3 linked regions of the Homo sapiens genome follow. The protein of the gene in region 2 binds, or shares a complex with, the protein of the main gene of each other region. Each region holds a gene or a part of one and is shown on either strand. Other genes may lie near its edges. The genes, in order: TFDP1, MYBL1 and RBL1.

What was found.
Region 1: MYBL1 (region 2) and TFDP1 share a complex: the UniProt entries of both Homo sapiens proteins name them as parts of the DREAM complex.
Region 3: MYBL1 (region 2) and RBL1 share a complex: the UniProt entries of both Homo sapiens proteins name them as parts of the DREAM complex.

Annotation. Positions count from the first base shown.
Region 1 is NC_000013.11:113,629,712-113,633,532, forward strand, and holds part of TFDP1 (transcription factor Dp-1), read left to right. Parts: exon of another isoform or gene 1-1,591; intron 1,592-1,911; coding exon 1,912-2,033; intron 2,034-3,408; coding exon 3,409-3,574; intron 3,575-3,821. UniProt on the Homo sapiens protein: Can stimulate E2F-dependent transcription.
Region 2 is NC_000008.11:66,611,304-66,614,903, forward strand, and holds the start of MYBL1 (myb-related protein A), read right to left. Parts: upstream 1,916-3,600; 5' UTR 1,536-1,915; coding exon 1,516-1,535; intron 1,491-1,515; exon of another isoform or gene 1,270-1,490; coding exon of another isoform or gene 1,211-1,269; intron 1-1,210. UniProt on the Homo sapiens protein: Transcription factor that specifically recognizes the sequence 5'-YAAC[GT]G-3'.
Region 3 is NC_000020.11:37,068,364-37,072,184, reverse strand, and holds part of RBL1 (retinoblastoma-like protein 1), read left to right. Parts: intron 1-3,821. UniProt on the Homo sapiens protein: Key regulator of entry into cell division. Directly involved in heterochromatin formation by maintaining overall chromatin structure and, in particular, that of constitutive heterochromatin by stabilizing histone methylation.

The sequences.
Region 1 (3,821 bases), on a different chromosome or scaffold from region 2:
TTCAGCTCATGCGGGTTTATCGGGATGTTCCTTGTAAGTTCCTCGTTGTAAGTCAGTTCCTCGTTGTAAGTCCACTCTTTGTGAGTAGGTTTGCTCCTGCCTGGAGGACAGCGGCACGGTGACGGCATCTGTTTTGGGGCCAAGATCCAGTGCCTTGCGTGGTCCTGGGATTCCTGGGGAAGGGAGTGGACCCATGAGGTGGGTTAGAATCGTGTGTGGGATTCTCCAGCCCCCTGTACCTGTGCGTGTGGTATGCGCGGAGCCAGCCAGCACTGCCTGGCGTGGAGCTGGCGGGTTCTCAGTCTGACATCAACTCCCGGAGAATGGCATCTGCTGAACTCAACGTAGGAAGCCGTGCGGGGCCAGCGCGCTCTCAGGCAGCCTGAGTGGCAGGGTCCTTTTGTCAGCTGTTTGGATCTCCCACGTGGCCCAGTGCCCCAGCAGCACACACACACACACACACACACACACGCGTATTGAACAAAACAAGTTTCACAGGACATTTATCCACGCCCAGGAGATTTATCTTTTGTATGGCTTCATTTTGCAGAAAATTCACTTGTTTGATTTCATGGCCTGGTGATCCACAGAAGGCCGCACTCTGATGAGTCTCTGATCATCGGAGAGATGAGTGTCAATGAAAAGATCAGTCCTTGAAATGTTTTTCTTCTCCGGAGCTGACAGGTGATCTGGCCTAGGGATAATTGGAAAGTGTCCCCGTCAGCTGCTCCCAGGGCCACCGCAGGTGATGCATTTATCCCCGTAAGAAGGGGAGCTGGGGGGGCCCAGCTTAGAGTAGCTCAGGGCATCGGCCACATGAAGCCCCCCCGCCAGCATACAGGTGTCCAGCTCCAATCCCTTTAACGGAAACTGCATGTCCATACAAGCAGTATAATCGCTGAGGCACTTTGATTTGTGGTGAATTGAATGATTTAACATTTACTGAGAAATAGTGTTTCCAGTTTAGATAGAGTCGTGCCACAAGATCTTTGAAAAGTCAGAGTTGTATTTGCCTGTATGAGGGTGTCCAGGTATTCACACTCGAACATTCATTGTTGGAACTAAAGTGGTAAGACCTTGTCAAGAGTCAGACCAGCCAGCATGTCCCTGAAGGGAGAGACAGTTGTTGACACCCTCAGGTGTGCTGTGGGGTGGGGCGGGTGGGTCAGTGTCCACACTGGCGTTGCCTCTGGTGGTTCCCCCCAGAGGGGCCCAGGTGTGTGAGCCCCAGGGGCGTGTGGAGCCCCTACCTTCCGCCCCCAGTGCTGGTGGCCCTCCCTCCTTGCCTGACGCCGTTGTGGGTGCAGGGGTTCCCCCAGACAGGGCCCCAGGGCACAGGGTTACCAGGTGATGGCTGTCACCCTGCTGGGCTGGAGGAGCAGCTGCTGTCACCCTGCCTGTGCTTTTGTCTTTTGAGAGCTGTTTTTGGTTTGTTTCAGGCCTCTTTTTAGTACCACAGAAGGATACAATTTCATCCTCATCCATATCACTAAAAGGAAGTAAAAGGGTGAAGGGAAAAATGGAAGCGTGCTCAAGTGCCCTGTGTGGAATTCTGTGCCGCCCCCTTCATTAAACTTGACCGTTAGCGCCTTGTGTGCGGTTTGGGGGTCACGCTCTGCCCTGTCCTGTTCTTGCTTGCTTGGGTCGTCCGAAGTTTCTTGTTGCTTTTGTCTAATTGGAGAAGATGCCTGTGACTGACAAGAGGAAGATGAGCCACATTCAGAACCGGTGGGGTGATGCCGTCACCGTGACAAAAGCGTCCACCGCTGGACGTTTTTCCTGCTCCGTCATGGCTGCTCACTGTGGTTAAGGAAATTCAGCAGTGGCTGCGGATAGCGAACAGATGGTGGGCATGGCACCCTCGCCGTGTGGGAGGGGACTGACTGTCTGAATTGTCTTTTTCGACTGTAGGTAATTGGTACGCCTCAGAGACCGGCAGCGTCAAACACCCTGGTGGTAGGAAGCCCACACACCCCCAGCACTCACTTTGCCTCTCAGAACCAGCCTTCCGACTCCTCACCTTGGTCTGCCGGGTGAGCACTTCCCTCTGGACCCTTAGAGTTGTAGGACTGCTTGCGGTTCGCACCTCCACGTTCTCCTGGGCCACGTGTGTCACACAGTCGTGCGATGGGGCTCCCACGCGCGTTGACGCCAGCCTCCGAATCACACTCACCCATCATCGTGGCCTGCACAGGTGTGCAGCCGAGGCGCACTGCCTCGGTCATGGAGAAGTCGGGCTGGGCACCGCCCACCCCGCTTTGTGTCTGGTGTAGTGGGTGCTCTCTGAAGGGCTGGCAGCTCTTGGCCAAGACGGGGAGAAGCTGGCCTCGTACTCGCCACAGGACCTCGGAGACTTTCCCTCGTCTGTGCTGGGAGCATGTGGGATGGATTTCACCCACTGCCCCTGAATTCAGCCTCTACTGCCCCTGGGGTTACGGCCCCCGCGGGTGGTCCCGCCAGAGCTGCTCCTTCCACTAAAGCAAGATCTGATGAGCTGTGTCTTTCCTTAAAAACACACACACGCAAAGCTGCAAAAGCCTGCCTGTGTTGGTGCCCAAAGCTTCACCAGCTAGGAACCTCAGGTGGCCTTTCCCGCCATGTGGGGACTGACCAGAGTGTACAGAGTTGGGCTTTCCCTCGACCTGAAGCACACTTAGTGCTTTGCACCTGTTGTCAAGCGGCTGTCACAGCCCAAGCTGTATGAAATTACAGCCTGCTGAAATTAGTCCTAAGAATTCCCAAATTTACACTGAAACGTCCCATAGTTCCTGATTCTGGCTGCCCTCTTTAGAAAAGTGGTGCTTGGGGCTCACGCCTGTAATCCTAGAGGCCGAGGCCAGCAGATCACGAGTTCAAGAGATTGAGACCATCCTGGCCAACGTGGTGCAACCCCGTCTCTATTAAAAATACAAAAAAATTAGCCAGATGTGGTGGCACGTGCCTGTAATCCCAGCTACTCGGGAGGCTGAGGCAGGAGAATCGCTTGAACCCAGGAGGTGGAGGTTGCAGTGAGCCGAGATGGCGCCACCGCACTCCAGCCCACGACAGAGCGAGACTCCGTCTCAAAAAAGAAAAAACAACAACAAAAAGAAAAGTGGTGCTTGGTGTACCGGCACATCTCCCATATGCTGATTTGGGTCCTGGGGACGCCTCCCGTTTTCCCTGACGCTTGGAAGGTTAGAGGTGCAGCCTGCTGGGGAGACACTCGCTTTCTGACCTGCAGGACCACTGGGCCTGGGGGCTGGGGCTAGGGGGTCCTGGCCTGCTCACGTGTTGGATCTGCTGCGCCCGTGGGACGTGGCCCCTTTTTGTGCAGCTCATTAGAGCTCTCAGGTAAAAGCATTCCTCGATTCAGGCTGATCCTCAGGAGGGCTGACAGTCGCTTCTCTTTTCCTTTGTATTTTGAAGGAAGCGCAACAGGAAAGGAGAGAAGAATGGCAAGGGCCTACGGCATTTCTCCATGAAGGTCTGCGAGAAGGTGCAGAGGAAAGGGACCACTTCCTACAACGAAGTGGCAGACGAGCTGGTTGCGGAGTTCAGTGCTGCCGACAACCACATCTTACCAAACGAGTCAGTAAGTGTGTGCCGGGGGCCGAGAGGCTGGGGTGGCGGAGCCCAGCGGTGTGGTACGTTTCGCTCTTTTAATATCGGGAACAGTTAAAACCATACAGAAAATGCCAAGTACAGCATAAAAGAATTTTTACCAAACGAGTCAGTAAGTGTGTGCCGGGGCCGAGAGGCTGGGGTGGCGGAGCCCAGCGGTGTGGTACGTTTCGCTCTTTTAATATCGGGAACAGTTAAAACCATACAGAAAATGCCAA
Region 2 (3,600 bases):
TTAAATTTTTTTATATTTAAAAATTCAAAAAGCCTAAACCAGTACTTCGGCAATCATAATTACAAGAGCTTTAAATATCTATCTTTTCTGAAGATTGATGTTAATTGGGTCCTTGAAGTTCTAGAAGGGTGGTTCTTTCCTGGGTGATTTTGTCCCCCAAAAGATATTTGGCAATGTCTGGAGACATTTTTACTGTCATGACTGAGGGAAGTGGAGTGTTACTATCTCTACTGGGTAGAAGCCAGCGATGCTGCTAAACATCTCCCCATTACAAAGAATTATCTGGTCCAAGATGTCAATAGTGCAAAGGCTGAAAACAGTTTTAGAGGGGTCTGTGTACACATTTATTTCATCTCAAGAGTTTGTCCTATAACTTACTTCAAAACTAATAAGCTTACAGAGACTTAAGGATTTCTGCAGAAGCATCCTGCACACAGCAGATGCTTAACAGAAAACTAAGGAAAAAACAATTATGTATAGTTACTGCCAATTTTTAGCAGAACTCTGCAATGAATGACCCCCATTACTAAATTTCAACTTAGGAAATACATCTCTAGTTAAGATTTTGGGGCTGTGGATCTAGATAAATAAATATTTGGAAATCCTGCCAAACATCTTTTCAGGTTTATTTGATAATGCTGAAAATCGGAAGACATCCTATATTTTTGTTATCTAAGCAATTACTCCACATAATTTATGAGTAGCTGCTGTAATGGCATGTAAACGAAAATTAGATGCATAAATTCATCCTAGCACATTTTCCAGGCAAAGGTGGAAAAAAGTGCCTTACCTCTGTGGAACACTTAGGTACGGTCAGAGCCAAACACAGACACTCAAAATATTAAGTGAATCAAACACATTGTTTTATTTCAAGATCAAGCTACTAGTTGTTACTACTAGTTGTTACTATGTGACATGGTCCCAAGAGAGGATATTAAAATATACATATATACATAAAGCTGAGCATATGGGTATAGGAATTACAGAAAACATCAAAAAAGTCCTCTCAGCTATTCCCCAGAGGATTTTCCACAACGTTTCAAGATAGCCAAGTTGGCAGAGGGGTGGCCGCCCAGGTTCACCGCGGAGTTCCTATTTTGACTGTACCGTCATTCAGAAAAGAGTCGCCCGAACACCATTTTCAAGTCCTCCCGGCAGGACACAGTCAGTTTTCTCTGCGTAGCGGACTCCCTAAAAGCGCTCGACTTACCTGGCAAGAAACCTGCCTCGAAGAAGTGGCAGCATGAGGTCAGAAATCTGGACGCGCATTACGGGGAGAGTCACCGAGAAACCTGGGCATCTCTTACGTCCCGCGCCTCAAACACCCTGGTCCCCAACTCTCCACACGTCGCAGCTGCCCTCCGGTCATCGAGGCCAAGCGGCCGCGGGGACGCGGGAAGAAAAACCTCTGCCCTCGCCAGGGAGGGCCTTATGGCGGGAGGGGGCAGCGGGATAGGAAAGAGAATCTGAGCCGAGACGGCGCCGACAGGCCTGGGCGAAAGGGGTGCCACCCACCTGCGCGACCTCTTCGCCATCCTTCAAGTACCGCATAGGAGCAGGCTGGGCGGGGACGCGGGTCAGCCTCCTCCAGCCTCCGGCGAATGCTCCTTCTCCCCGATCCTCTAGCCGCTTCCCTCGCTCCCTCTGGAGGCGGCCGAGTGCGGAACGCACGTCCTCGACAGGGCAGGACGGAGGGACAGCGGGGGCGGACCGCGACCCGACCCCGACCCCGGCCCGCAGCGCCGCTCTTAGCCCCGGCCCGGCCCGGCCAGGGATACCCCCAACATGTCAGGAGGCGCGATCCCGCCCTCCGCCGGCTTCTCCCGCCGCTTGTCAGCCTCCCTGCCCTGGCCCCAGCCCGGCTCCGCCACAGGCGCCCGACCCCTGCCCTCTCCCCCGCAGCTAGCAGTTCTGCAGGGCTCGCAGTCTCCTGCAGGGTTTTGTCCGCACCGCCGAATCTCGCGCCCAGCCTCCCTCAAGAGCCGCCGTTTGAATCTGCGCACGCGGCCCTGAACCTCATTGGCTGTGGGGGCCGCACGCGAAGAAGCGAGGGCGGGGAGGGGAGAGCGCGCGCGGCTGAGGGCGGGGCTGGGGAGCTGGAAGCTGGGACTGGAACTCGCGGGAGTCGGGGAAGGAGCCGGGAGCCAGGGGGTGGGGCCGCGGGTGGGGCCGTAGGTGGCGCATGCGAGCCGAGCTGTCATAGGACCCGGAACGCGCCGAGAGGCGCACCGCGCGGGGCCTGCTGGGAGAGCGAGTTCCTGCGCTCGCCGAGGAGTGGGTCCGGAAGCGGCGCCGGAGCGGGTCCGGAAGCGGGCGGTGGAGAAGTCCAGTTGCCCCAAAATTCTTAGGGTGAGCGAACCGAGTTTCTGGCGGGGTGGGTGGTCCCGCGGCCCACCAAGGGAACGTCTCCGCAGCCTCGCCTCGGCGACAGCTCCTGGCTCCTTAGGTGTCTTCCGCCTCACTAGTTAGGATGCGCGGTCTTCAGACTTGAGACAAATCTAACCATAAATTTGCGCGGCCGTTATTTTTTAAGCAAAAATGTGAGCTATTTTTACCCAGACATCATAGTTACGAGAGTGACGAAGACTCTGGCAGGAAACCAAATATCACCTGTTTTCCTCAAAAAGCAGCAGAAGAGTGACAAGTGAAAAAAGTTCCTAGCGGGAGACGTGCTTGGAACCGGAGATAATCTGTGTCTACCGCTGGTCTTCAAGGTGCTTAATTTCGTGCCCGCTCTACAGGAAATAACGTGCGCGGCGGAGGAGCCCTGTCCTGGAGAATAACGCGTGAAGAAGACAGTGGACTGGGCATTTCGTCCAGATGAATGAGCATGGTAGTTAAGTGTAGAAGGTGACCTTCTTCCCTCTGGAGAGACCAGGGAGGGGGGAACCACCGGAGGAGTTTCTAGCGGTTGCAGCTACTTGAGGTTCCAGTCTAATAACTACGAACTGTTCATTTCAAGTAGCATTAAAGTAGATTTGCTACAGTAACAATTACACTTGGCTAAGGAAAATTTGCAAGGCAACATGGTCTATTGCATAGAGCACTGAGCCACATGTTAACACTGTAACAAACACTTGCTATTTTGAAATTTTACGCTTCATCTTTTGCAAATCAGATGCAGGTGCAGAGTGAATTAAGAGGAGCTGAATTAAGAGAGAAGCTTGCATGCACTGCTGTCAAAACCTAAACACACTGGCTTTTTTTTTTTTAACAGTTCCTTTTTTCAAGGTATAGATTCTGGGAAGGTAAGGGAAGATAAAACAGCTTTTCTTTTTCTCTCCTGTTTTTTTTTTTGTTGTTTTTTTTTTGAGACTAGGTCTCACTCTATTCCCCATGCTGGAGTGCAGTGGCACAATCATAGCTTACAGTAGCCTCGAACAGCGATCCTCTTGCCTCAGCCTCCAAAGTAGCTGGGACTACAGGCGCGCGCCACAACACCTGGCCAAGCGTTTCTTCCAGATCATTCCTTACTGGGTTGCTGGTTCAGTAAAAATAAAAAAATAAAAAATAATTTAGAAATGAGTTCCCAAATTTCATTATGTTCCCAATGTCATTTGGAATCACTGTTTCACTGTTTTCTTATTTACCCCTGGGTCG
Region 3 (3,821 bases), on a different chromosome or scaffold from region 2:
AAAACAAAATTTTTAAAGTCCTCTGTAAGGGAGCATAATTTTTTGTAAGCCAAAAAATATTTAGTAATCTGACAAATTTTTTGCTGCTGTTGGTAAGAATCTTTTAATGAGGTCCTTAAGAGTCTCAGATTATATCAGCATGTCCAGAGTTTGAATGCTGTATTAGGACGTTTTACGTTGCTATGAAGGAATACCTGAGGTTGGGTGACTTATTTAAAAAAAGAGATTTATTTGGCCCAGGGTTCTGCAGGCCGTATAGGAAGCATGGGGCTGGCATCTGCTCCTGGTGAGGGCCTCAGGAAGTTTACAGTCACGGTAGGTGAAGGGGGAGGAGGCACATCACATGATGAGAGCAGGAGCAATTGAGGGTGGGAAGTGCCACACTTTTAAACAGCCAGATCTCAGGTGAGTGACAACTAAACTCACTACCATGAGGAGAGCACCAAGCCATTCATGAGGGATCTGCTCCCATGACCCAAACACCTCCCACTAGGCCCACCTCCAACATTGGAGGTCACGTTTCTTTTTTATTTTTTTGAGACGGGCTTTCACTCTCTTGCCCAGGCAGTAGCATGTTCATGACTCACTGCAGCTTCAACCCCTCAGGCTCAAGTGATCCTCCTGCCTCAGCTTCCTGAGTAGCTGGGCCCACAGTCACACACCACCATGCTTTGCTAACTTTTAAATTTTTTGTAGAGACGAGATCTCACTGTGTTGCCCAAGCTGGTCTCAAACTGGTGGGCTCAGGTGATCCTCCAGCCTCACCCTCCCAAAGTGTTGGGATTACAGGCATGAGCTACCATGCCCAGCCAAGGAAATTACATTGCAACATGAGATTTGGAGGGGACAAAACATCCAAACCACATTAAATAGCTTTGGATGATTTGCTATTAATGTCTTCTGTCACCTTAAAAAGAAATTATAAGTATTGGCCAGGCGAAATGGACTCAAGTAAGCCTTTCCAATCTACATGAAATAATCAGAACATAGGGCCGAGTGCAGTGGTTCATGCCTGTAATCCCAGCACTTTGGGAGGCCGAGGCAGGTGGATCATCTGAGGTCAGGAGTTCAAGACCATCCTGGCAAACATGGTGAAACCTTGTCTCTACTAAAAATACAAAAATTAGCTAGGCATGGTGGTGTGCACCTGTAGTCCCAGCTGTCAGGAGGTAGAGGCAGGAAAATTGCTTGAAGCTGGGATGCAGAGGTTGCAGTGAGCCAAGATCATGCCACTGCACTCCAGCCTGGGTGACAGACTGAGACTCCATCTCAAAAAAAAAAAATTACAAGTATTATTCTGTATATATTGCTAGACCTTTAATTAAGTGAGCTTTGACATGACAAGTTTTCTATCTAAGACCACGTTAACATAGGGACATAAAAAAATGTACCCAGAATTGGCCTGGGCACGGTGGCTTGCTTGAACACAGGAGGTGGAAGTTGCAGTAAACCAAGGTGGTGCCACTGCACTCCAACCTGGGCACCAGAACTATTAAGTTTTTTTCTGAGTATGTGCTACCTTCTTTACTTTTGGTTGTGGAACCACACATTGGAACTCAAACTCTTGAATTTTACTCCTAACCTGTAACAATCTGGTGCTTTGTAATCAAATTCCCATTTGGAAAATGGAATTGTCTTTCCATTTGGGAGACTTCTGTTTTCCCTCAAACTAATTTTATTTTATTTTATGTTTTTTTTTTTAAATTTATTTATTTTTTATTGATAATTCTCGGGTGTTTCTCACAGAGGGGGATTTGGCAGGGTCATAGGACAATAGTGGAGGGAAGGTCAGCAGATAAACAAGTGAACAAAGGTCTCTGGTTTTCCTAGGCAGAGGACCCTGCGGCCTTCCGCGGTGTTTGTGTCCCTGGGAACTTGCGATTAGGGAGTGGTGATGACTCTTAAGGAGCATGCTGCCTTCAAGCATCTGTTTAACAAAGCACATCTTGCACCGCCCTTAATCCATTTAACCCTGAGTGGACACAGCACTTGTTTCAGAGAGCACAGGGTTGGGGGTAAGGTCACAGATCAACAGGATCCCACGGCAGAAGAAGTTTTCTTAGTACAGAACAAAATGAAAAGTCTCCCATGTCTACTTCTTTCTACACAGACACGGCAACCATTCGATTTCTCAATCTTTTCCCCACCTTTCCCGCCCTTCTATTCCACAAAGCCGCCATTGTCATCCTGGCCCGTTCTCAATGAGCTGTTGGGCACACCTCCCAGACGGGGTGGTGGCCGGGCAGAGGGGCTCCTCACTTCCCAGTAGGGGCAGCTGGGCAGAGGCGCCCCTCACCTCCTGGACGGGGCGGCTGGCCGGGCGGGGGGCTGACCCCCCCACCTCCCTCCCGGACAGGGCGGCTGGCCTGGCAGGGGGCTGACCCCCCCACCTCCCTCCCGGATGGGGGTGCTGGCCTGGCGGGGGGCTGACCCCCCCCACCTCCCTCCCGGACTGGGTGGCTGCCAGGCGGAGACGCTCCTCACTTCCCAGACTGGGTGGCTGTCGGGCGGAGAGGCTCCTCACTTCTCAGACGGGGCGGCTGCCGGGCGGAGGGGCTCCTCACTTCTCAGACGGGGCGGTTGCCGGGCAGAGGGTCTCCTCACTTCTCAGACGGGGCGGCCGGGCAGAGATGCTCCTCACCTCCCAGACGGGGTCGCAGCCGGGCAGAGGTGCTCCTCACATCCCAGACGGGGTGGCGGGGCAGAGGCGCTCCCCACATCTCAGACGATGGGCGGCTGGGCAGAGACGCTCCTCACTTCCTAGATGGGATGGCGGCGAGGAAGAGGTGCTCCTCACTTCCTAGGTGGGATGGCGGCCGGGCGGAGACGCTCCTCACTTTCCAGACTGGGCAGCCAGGCAGAGGGGCTCCTCACATCCCAGACGATGGGCGGCCAGGCAGAGACGCTCCTCACTTCCCAGACGGGGTGGCAGCTGGGCAGAGGCTGCAATCTTGGCACTTTGGGAGGCCAAGGCAGGCGGCTGGGAGGTGGAGGTTGTAGCGAGCCGAGATCACGCCACTGCACTCCAGCCTGGGCACCATTGAGCACTGAGTGAACCAGACTCCGTCTGCAATCCCGGCACCTCGGGAGGCCGAGGCTGGCGGATCACTTGCGGTTAGGGGCTGGAGACCGGCCTGGCCAACACAGCGAAACCCCGTCTCCACCAAAACCAGTCAGGCGTGGCGGCCCGAGCCTGCAATCGCAGGCACTCGGCAGGCTGAGTCAGGAGAATCAGGCAGGGAGGTTGCAGTGAGCCGAGATGGCAGCAGTACAGTCCAGCTTCGGCTCAGCATGAGAGGGAGACCGTGGAAAGAGAGGGAGAGGGAGACCGTGGGGAGAGGGAGAGGGAGAGCTCCTAATTTTGTATTTGTAGTAGAGACGGGGTTTCTTCATGTTGCTCAGGCTGTGTCTTGAACTCCCGATCTCAGGTGATCTCAAACTAATTTTATAACCTGTCAATCTGTTAACTAACATTAACTTTGTAAATTTTATGCAAAATATTGTCTAGGTAATATAGAGAATAAAGGAAGTAGATAGGTGCTCTCGCTCCCTCCATAGCAGTAAACTCTATGTGATGACCACTAATTAATAACCTGTATTCCCCTGGTGATCCTGGGAACGAAAGTGATTTCATAGTGAGGACTTTTTTTTTTTAATTAAATTTAGGCTTGAGGGATGGTGTTTGTTCTTTGTTCATGTAAGACAGTGTCTTGCTTTGTCACCCGGGCTGGAGTACATGATTGAGGCTAACTGCAGTCTCGACATCCTGGGCTCAAGCAATTCTCCCACCTCAGCCTCCCAAGTACCTGGGGCTACAGGCA